2 linked regions of the Homo sapiens genome follow. The protein of the gene in region 2 purifies or fractionates together with the protein of the main gene of each other region. This does not show direct contact. Each region holds a gene or a part of one and is shown on either strand. Other genes may lie near its edges.

Region 1 (4,066 bases), on a different chromosome or scaffold from region 2:
GAACAATTCCAGCATAAACTGTGCCTCACAAAATTTAGATATTCTGATTCTTCATTCCTCAGAAACGAATGCTGTACAATTCCATGGGCCAGGCCAAGGGAGGGAGCCAGTGCAACCAAGCTCACCAGGCATCCGGCCGGATCCACCACTGGACTGGACTTCACGGTTCTAAGGTGTCAGGGTTTGAAAAGTTCCAAGTAACCTCCACTCTCCAGGGAACAGCAGAGATGAAAGAGATCAAAACATCCACAGTCTCAAGTACTCTCGACCGCCATCCCATTAAGCGAGGCAGAGCATTTCTCCCAGAGGAGCCACCTACCCAAAACTCACACTGCCACCTAGGAACTGCTACAGAAAATTCTAGTAAATAAGCCCCAAATCTATATTAATGTCCCCTTCCCCCATATAAAAAAAAAGACTAAATAATCTGAGTTTACATGATTTAGAAATTAGGATTTTACAGAGTCCAGGAAAGGAAAAGGAAGAAATTTAAAGAAATTCTTCATTTTTATAAAAGCATGAGAGAGCACTGAAAACCTGCCCTTAAGATGTTCTTAGGTACATATTTTAGGATTTTTATTGCTGATTACAGATTTGAAACTATGAAATGTGCACTGCTTGGCAAGTAACACAAGTAATTCTTTACTTATTCACATTTCCAATAAAAGCGTAAATAAACAGACAAAAAATATAAAGGACAAGAGAAATACAAATAGCAACAGCTTCAAAACAAAAGGATTTAGTAACAGAAAGTCTCCACAGTGTCCGTCAAAATTTAAGATTATCCAAACCGTGCAAACGCTCAACACAAACCAACGCCATACACTGAACTATTAATACTTGTCCCTTGAAGTTGCAAACTAGAAGCCACCCACATAACTGTATGATCACACAAACCAACTAATTTGCTCAAGGTTCAGGTTAAAGCAACATTTAATATCCTTTACAAGATGGAATTCGTGACAAGTTCAAAAGGAGAACTTCCTTTGTTTTAATGCAGCTGTGCTCAGAAGCCTGTGATTTCCTAGGAAACCATCTGGGTTTAGCCCATTAGAAAAATGCAGTTTAAAGCAGTGTCACACTGGCTGCCTGAAGGTACCCTTGGAGATACTGGAGCGCTTCTGCATTCAGGCTGGTGCTCACCATTGATGGAACCTACAAGAGATGGGAAACACACACTGGCTGTTGGAGATCTTGGTGCGCCAATACAAACCCCATCTTCTACGGGAGAGCTGCCACAGCTCTGGGAAGAGCAGCCAGTCAAGTCATTAATCACCATCCAAAAATTCTCCAGAAACTCAACTGCTTTTATGCCTTCAAAAATAGGTCTAAAGAAAAGATCCATAAGGAATTACTATTATTAGGTGTGATAGTGGTATTGTGGTTAATTAAAAAGTCCTTACTGGTTAATGATGTAGAATAAGGTACTTACGCGTGAAACGTATGATGTCTAAGACTTGCTCAATACAGAGAATAAAAGGAGAAACGAAACAAAACTGGCAAGATATTGGTAATTATTGAAGCTGGGCACATGCAGGCTTCATTATGCTCTTTCTATATATGTTTGAAAGTCTCCGTAATAATACAATGAAAAAATATATATACATATATATACACACGCCACACACATATATGTTTTTTAAGAAACGGGACCTCGCTCTGTTGCCCAGGCTGGATTGCAGTGGCACTGTAATAGCTCACTGCAGCCCTGGCCTCCCAAAGCACTAGAACTACAGGCATAAACCACTGTGTCTGGCTTGAAAAATATATATTTTATCAGGTAACATGTAAGAACTCTATAATAAGTGCTGACAAAATGCAACTATACAGTCATTATTAGGTTTATGCCATGATCTATTAATTTCTGAGTATGCTGCAATTAAAAAAAAATAACTGTGTCCAGGCTCACACTTGTAATCCCAGCACTTTGGGAGGCTGAGGGAGGAGGATGGCTTGAGCCCAGGAGGTTGAGACCAACCTGAACAACATAGGGAGACCCTGTCTCCACAAAAAAATAAAAAATTAGCTGGGCATAGTGGGTCCTAGCTACTTGGAAGGCTGACAGGCAGTAGGATCACTTGAACCTGGGAGGTTGAGGCTGCAGTGAGCCATAATCGTACTACTGCATTCCAGCCTGGATAAGAGTGAGACCCTGTCTAAAAAAATAAATAAATAAAAATAAAAATAAAAAAATGCTACCACATTTTAATAATAGATGGATTACTTCGATCTGGGAAATAAACTCTTATTATAAAGTGCTGACAAAATGCAACTATACAGCCTTATTACATTTCTATTGAAGGGATTTTTCCTCCTTTGTTCTCACTCCTAAATCCATTCACTTAAAATATATTTGTAGTACATAATACAAGAAAAAAAGGGCTCAGTGTTTTTAATTAAAGAAAATAAGCTTGCTGTAACTCAATGAGATTTAGTTTTATTACGCCCACCAATGAAAACAGACACCAGAACTACTACTATCCTTTTGCCCTCCCATTAAAGTCTCCATTTATCACAGAGTTCTTTGACAACACACTTACCCTTCCTGGACAGGCGGTAGACAACTTGTGAAGTGACTGTGCCAGGTGAATTTTGGGGTTATTCACCATTTGACCTACAGGATCATGCTCTTTTTTCCCAGCAAATGCCAACTGTGAGAAGGCAGTCTGATATCCTGGTGTATCTTCTATGTCAATAAAATGTTCCTCATCAGGAATGGTATCATCTTCGGGTAACTCAAAAAGACCAATCAAAGACTGTAATAATGGAGTCCTGGATTGGAAGAAAGCAAGAGATAAAAAGGTCAAGAAAATACTCGGAAGACTTAAAACCAGCAATTGCTCAGAGACACAAAATTACAGACTCATAGTCTCAAGAATAAAAGGGGACCTTTGAAATTAAGATGGTTCTTTTCTTGGCTTATTCAGTTCTTCCCCTTAAAGATAAGTCAGTTTAGTTGGGCTTCTGTCATAAAATTGTCTTAGAGATCACCTAGATCAGACTCTTAAAGGGGTCCATGAATCCCCCTGAAAAAGAAGCAGGAAACAAGATCATTCTAAGCCCAGAAGGATCCAGAAATCATGTCTTGGATCTGATTGTGGAGAAGCTGAGATCAGACCAAGATTCTCTTGGCCCCCAAGAGAATAAGCTTTGTTAATTTTGCAGTCATATGGGAAGGAAGCTGTAACTTACAAAAATATTAAAATGAAGTACTTACCACAGTTTGGTATACTCAGTGTCCATCATTGGGGGACATTCTGTTAGTAATTTGGTTATGCCAACCGCACAGATCTTTTTCTCTACATTTCCAGATACCTTCTGAATTTCAGGAATAATAATTTTTTCCAAAACCATTCCAAACATTCTATTAAAGCAAAATAAATCAACTTAATATTAGATTATCACTATAATGAAATAGTAAAATGCTTAGATGTTAGTTACTTCTTATGAATATGATAAATTACTAAATAACAAGACTGCTGTTTTTGATCATCTGAAGAGACTGAAAGTCAAAACATAAAAAAACCCCATCACACCTCTACCCTGTAGCCAAATGCCATAATCTTTTTCTTTTCTTTTTTTTTTTGAGACGGAGTTTCGCTCTTGTTGCCCAGGCTGGAGTGGAACGGTGTGATCTCAGCTCACTACAACCTCCACCTCCTGGGTTCAAGCAATTTGCCTGCCTCAGCCCCCTGAGTAGGTGGGATTACAGGTGCCCACCACCACGCCCGGCAAATTTTTGTATTTTTAGTAGAGATGGGGTTTCATTGTGTTGGCCAGGCTGATCTCGAACTCCTGACCTCAGGTGATCCACCTGCCTCAGCCTCCCAAAGTGCTAGGATTACAGGCGTGAGCCACCATTCCTGGCCCTCTCTGCTTTTTTCTTTAAAAATTACACCTGGCCAGTCTCAAAAAAAAAAAAGAAAAAAAAAAAAAAAAGAGAGAGGAGCAAGGAGGGAAAAAAGGAATCATCCCACCACCCAGAAACAACTAGTTTTAACATTTTTGGGTTATAAGCTTCCCAACTGTCTTTGCTTACATACCTGCAGGTACATAAATGCTAATG
Region 2 (5,368 bases):
CCCCATCTCTACTAAAAAAAACCCCACAACAGCAAGAACAATAATGAGCCAGGTATGGTGGTACACCCCTGTGGTCCCAGCTACTCGAGAGGCTGAGGTGGGAAGATTGCTGAAGCCTGGGAACCCAAGGCTGCCATGAGCCATGGGCACACCACTCACTCCAGCCTGCGGGACAGAGCGAGAATCTGTCTAAAAAAAAAAATCCTAATTGCAGAAATTCCAGTTGCTTTTGAAATATTTTCTGTTTGTTTTATTATAGTTACTAAACCGATAGATGAAGGAAGTTCAAAACTAGTTCAATATAGGACCCTTAAAGAGACTTTCTTTGACTGTCACCCTTTCTGATGGAGGGCTTAGGAAGTGAACCCTGATTCAATTGGCTCCTGGCCTTACTTAGGAAAAACAGACAAGAGGTTAGAATAGATGTTTCGATGGGTCCTTTCAAATCCCTGAGCCTGTCAATTTCTTTTATTTCCCACAGTTTAGTGAGTGGCACGATCATGATACTATGCTAGGTGGTACAATACTGCCACCTATGGAGCAACAGTAGAACTTGTTATAATGTTAACGATGCATGGATTTTTATACAATGCTGTTTAAAAATGTAGAAAACTTGCCATCCAAATGACTCCTTTGATTGGTAGGTTAATAACTGCCTCTCAAACTTATCTTTTGTGGACATCTGATTTGGGTTCACCTAAAAAAGACAAGTGTATGGAAAATGTGAATGAAAATATCTTAATAAACTTTTTGTTTTCTTAGTAGAAGAAATATGGGGACTTTGAATTGAAGATAATGAAATCATAATACTTTAGTTGTGGAAGGTACCTAAAGCATGATTCCGATGAGTGCTGTAGGATCAGTCCAGTTCAGTGTTGGCGCTCACATGAGATGGATCCATCAGTTGTAGCCACAGTGAAGCTGGGGTAGAGTGGAAAGGGGTCAGGACTAGGGAGTCTAGAGACTGCAGAGGTTCTATTACAGACTCAGTCATGAACTTACTCTAAGACTCAGGGTAAGTAACTGAATGTTCTGGAAGATGATTATCTCATCTAAAAGAGTGGCCTTCAAACTTTTTGGATAGCATGCTACTATCAATTAAAATATTTGAGCATAGACTCTCCATATAACTTTAAAAATATATTTATAATGTAAATATGAATTGCTATCATTAACTGGTATCTCAGGGCACAGTATATACTTAGAGCCAGACCGACACAGCATAGTGGCTTAAGAGCATATACTCCGAGCTTAGTGGTGGCTGTGTGACCCTCTCTGCCTATTTCCTCAGTAGTGAAATAGGATAATAGAAGACCCTCGCCTCATAGGGTTATTGTGAGGATTTGAGGTTAATATGTTATGAATTGAAAACAGTGTCTAAGACATAGAAAGCACTCTGACAATACACTTATTATTGTCATTGTTATTATCATGAATATGTCTGCATTTCAAAGGTCCTTGTGGTCCTTTCAGATATTTACTTGACTTCTTGCCAATCTGATAAACAAGTCATTGCTTTTACCTTATTATGTTCTAAGAATAGAAGTGTCATTCTGCCATCTTATTATTCTCTTGAGAATGCATTTTCATCAGATTCAGTTAGTAGATTCTTTGCAGGAATCTTTTCAAGCCATTTGTCCACTGTATGAGTGTTCTTTGATTAAAAAAGTTAAAACTGCATGATAATTTTATATTTCATAAATCTACTTACTAGACTCTTTGGAGACTATCTAAAAGACTAGGGTAGCTCCTCATTTCCCTGGGTGAGTTATTAGAGCTTTTAAAAAGTTACAGATGAGGTAAGTTGCTTAAACTTAAACGTGCTTTTGGAATTGCAGGGGAAACTGGAAAAAAATAAACTTCTTATTGGTGACTTTAGGAAGAGTAAGAAGTAGTATGAGAAAGCTGGTCTCCACAACTCTAGCTTATATTTAAAGCACGATTATTATTCACAGAACATAAGCTATATTTATATGCAAACGTAAGTTTAAAAGCGAGGGCATATAGTATTTTTTTCTTTCTTTTTTCTTTCTCTCTCTCTTGTTTTTTTTGAGACAGGGTCTTTGTTGCACAGCCTGGACTGCAGTGGCACAAACATAGCTTACTGCAACCAGCGCCTCTGTGCTCAAGTGATCCTCCCACCTCAGCCTTCCAAGTAGCTGGAACCACAGGCATGTGCCGCCATGCCTCTAAAATTTTTTTTTTTTGTAGAGACGGGATCTTGCCATGTTGCCCAGGCTGTTTTTTTCTTTTCTTTTCTTTTTTTTGAGACAGAGTCTCACTCTGTCACCCAGGCTGGAGTGCAGTGGCACCATCTCAGCTCACTGCAACCTCCGCCTCATGGGTTCAAACAATTCTCCTGCCTCAGCCTCCCGAGTAGCTGGCACTATAGGTGCCCACCGGCACACCCGGCTAAGTTTTGTATTTTTAATAGAGATGGGGTTTTGCTATGTTGGCCAGGCTGGTCTCAAACTCCGGACCTCAGGTGATCCACCCACCTCAACCTTCCAAGGTGTTGGGATTACAGGGGTGAGCCACTATGCCTGGCCTCTTCTTTTGTTTTTTTTTTTTTAAACAACCTTTTTGAAAGCAGGCCCATGGCTGATCTTCTATCTGTGGCTCAGCAATTGTTGTTGTTGTTGTTTTTAGTGAAAATTAAGTAAATATTAATTGATGACTTTTTTTTTTTTTTTCCCGAGATGGAGTCTTGCTCTGTCACCCAGGCTGGAATGCAGTGGCGTGATCTTGGCTCACTGCAACCTCCACTTCCCAGGTTGGAGCAATTCTCCTGCCTCAGCCTCCGGAGTAGCTGGGACTACAGGTGTGCGCCACCATGCTTGGCTAATTTTCGTATTTTTAGTAGAGACAGGGTTTCACCATGTTGGCCAGACTGGTCTCAAACCTCTGGCCTCAGGTGATCCACCTGCCTCGGCCTCCCAAAGTGCTGGGATTGCAGGTGTGAGCCACTGCACCCGGCCCATCTTAACTTTTTAAAGTGTAAGTTCAGTGGCATTAAGTACATTCACATTTTTGTGTAACCATTACTTCCTTCTGTCTCCATAACTTTTCATCTTGCAAAACTGAAACTCTGCACCCAGTGAACGCTAACTCCTCATTGCCCCATCTGTCCCCAGCCCCTAGCCACCACTATCCTACTTTCTGTCTCTATGAATTTGACTACCCTGTGTATACCTCATATAAATTAAATCATACAGGCTGGGCATGGTGGCTCACTCCATGTAATCCCAGCACTTTGGGAGGCTGAGGTGGATGGATCACTTGAGTTCAGGAGTTTGAGACCAGCCTGGGCAACATGGCGAAAACCCATATCTACAAAAAATACAAAAATTAGCTGGATATGATGGCGCACACCTGTAGACCCAGCTATGGGGAAGGCTGAGATGGGAGGATCGCTTGAGCCCTGGACGTCAAGGCAGCAGTGAGGCAAGACTGCGCCACTGCCCTTCAGCCAGGGTGACAGAGCGAGACCCTGTCTCAATCAATCAGCCAATAATTGTTCTTTGTTAAAGATGACAGCAACACATAATGCAAAAAAAGAAATTTTTTAAAGAAAAAAATGATCATACAGTATTAGTCCTTTTGTGCCTAGCTTATTTCACATAGCATAAGGTCTTCAAGGTTTATCCGTGTTGCATGATATGTCAGAATTTCTTTTTCTTTTTAAGGCTAATATTCTATTGTCTGTATAGACCACATTTCTTTTTTTTTTTTTTTTTTTTGAGACGGACAGCTCTGTCGCCCAGGCTAGAGTGCAGTGGCGTGATCTTGCCTCACTGCAAGCTCCGCCTCCCAGGTTCACACCATTCTCCTGCCTCAGCCTCCTGAGTAGCTGGGACTCAGGCGCCCGCCACCACACCCGGCTAATTTTTTGTATTTTTAGTAGAGACGGGGTTTCACCGTGTTAGCCAGGATGGTCTCGATCTCCTGACCTCGTGATCCGCCCGTCTTGGCCTCCCAAAGTGCGGGGATTACAGGCATGAGCCACCGTGCCAGGCCTGTATAGACCACATTTCAAGTATCCATTCACTCACTTATGGACACCTGGGTTGCTTTTACCTTTTCACTATTTTGAATAACGCTGCTGTAAACACAAATGTATAAATCAGTGGTATTAAGTTCGAAAGAACTTTATGAAATACTTTTTTTTTTTAGGTGGTTGGTTCTAGCTATTGCCATGGTACGTTTTTATATGGAAAAAGGAACACACAGAGGTTTATATAAAAGTATTCAGAAGACACTTAAATTTTTCCAGACATTTGCCTTGCTTGAGGTAAGTTTTCCATCATGCTGTTTTTCTATTGCTGTAATATTTATGTGAACATTTTTTGTTGTGCAAAATCAATATGATTTTGCTGATTACATACCACCTATGGATTTGCTGAATGCCAATGTTGACAGTGGTTTATTTAATGTTTTCTATTATTGACGTAATGATTTTTTTCTATTTGCTTACAGATAGTTCACTGTTTAATTGGTGAGTTTTTGCTTCAATTTTATACTTTTATTATAAATTGCCTTTAGGGCAATAGTTCACTTGTTTTTCTTTTTAAGGAATTGTACCTACTTCTGTGATTGTGACTGGGGTCCAAGTGAGTTCAAGAATCTTTATGGTGTGGCTCATTACTCACAGTATAAAACCAGTAAGTGACACAAACATGTTGTCTACTTGAGCCTGCAGGAAAGCTTTCCATTCATAGGAATCTAAAATATTAACATTTGTATATTTCAGGAGGTGGAAGTGTTGGACAAAAAGGAGTTGGGTTTGAGTTTTAGATGTTGTGCATTGACTTAGTGCCTTAGCAGAATGACTTTGATACACAAACAAACCCAAATATTGGCATCTTAGATCCGTAATATATTCTCCTTTGATATTTTCCAGTTTTTGAAATCAGTATTCAGGTTCTGTCAAATAACCTGCAGAAAATGTTCTTTTCTATAGAAGTTTCTTTTCAATCCAAGTTGTCCTCTTTGATTATGTAATCGAAGTTGTCAGTATACAATTTATTATTTCTGGCCAGCCGCAGTGGCCCACACCTGTAATCCCAGCACTTTGGGAGGCCAAGGCGGGTGGATCACCTGAGGTCAGGAGTTTGAGACCAGCCTGGCCAACATGGTGAAACCCTGTTCCTACTAAAAATACAAAAATTAACCAGGCGTGGGGGCGAGCACCTGGAATCCCAGCTACTCAGGAGGCCGAGGCAGAAGAATCGCTTGAACCCGAGAGGCAAAGGTTGCATTGAGCTGAGATTGTGCCACTGCACTCCAGCCTGGGCGACAGAGCGAGACTCCGTCTGAAAAAAAAAAAAATTATATCTTATTTAGCATTGAGTATTACAGCAACAGACAT

What was found.
Region 1: the proteins of HACD1 (region 2) and CSE1L purify together in Homo sapiens (affinity purification with mass spectrometry; one large-scale study listed by BioGRID and IntAct). This does not show direct contact.

What each region holds. Positions count from the first base shown.
Region 1 is NC_000020.11:49,093,438-49,097,503, reverse strand, and holds the end of CSE1L (exportin-2), read right to left. Parts: intron 3,365-4,066; coding exon 3,218-3,364; intron 2,773-3,217; coding exon 2,541-2,772; intron 1,329-2,540; coding exon of another isoform or gene 1,317-1,328; exon of another isoform or gene 1,156-1,316; coding exon 1,066-1,155; 3' UTR 555-1,065; downstream 1-554. UniProt on the Homo sapiens protein: Export receptor for importin-alpha. Mediates importin-alpha re-export from the nucleus to the cytoplasm after import substrates (cargos) have been released into the nucleoplasm.
Region 2 is NC_000010.11:17,602,853-17,608,220, reverse strand, and holds part of HACD1 (very-long-chain (3R)-3-hydroxyacyl-CoA dehydratase 1), read left to right. Parts: intron 1-4,173; coding exon 4,174-4,291; intron 4,292-4,476; coding exon 4,477-4,495; intron 4,496-4,572; coding exon 4,573-4,661; intron 4,662-5,368.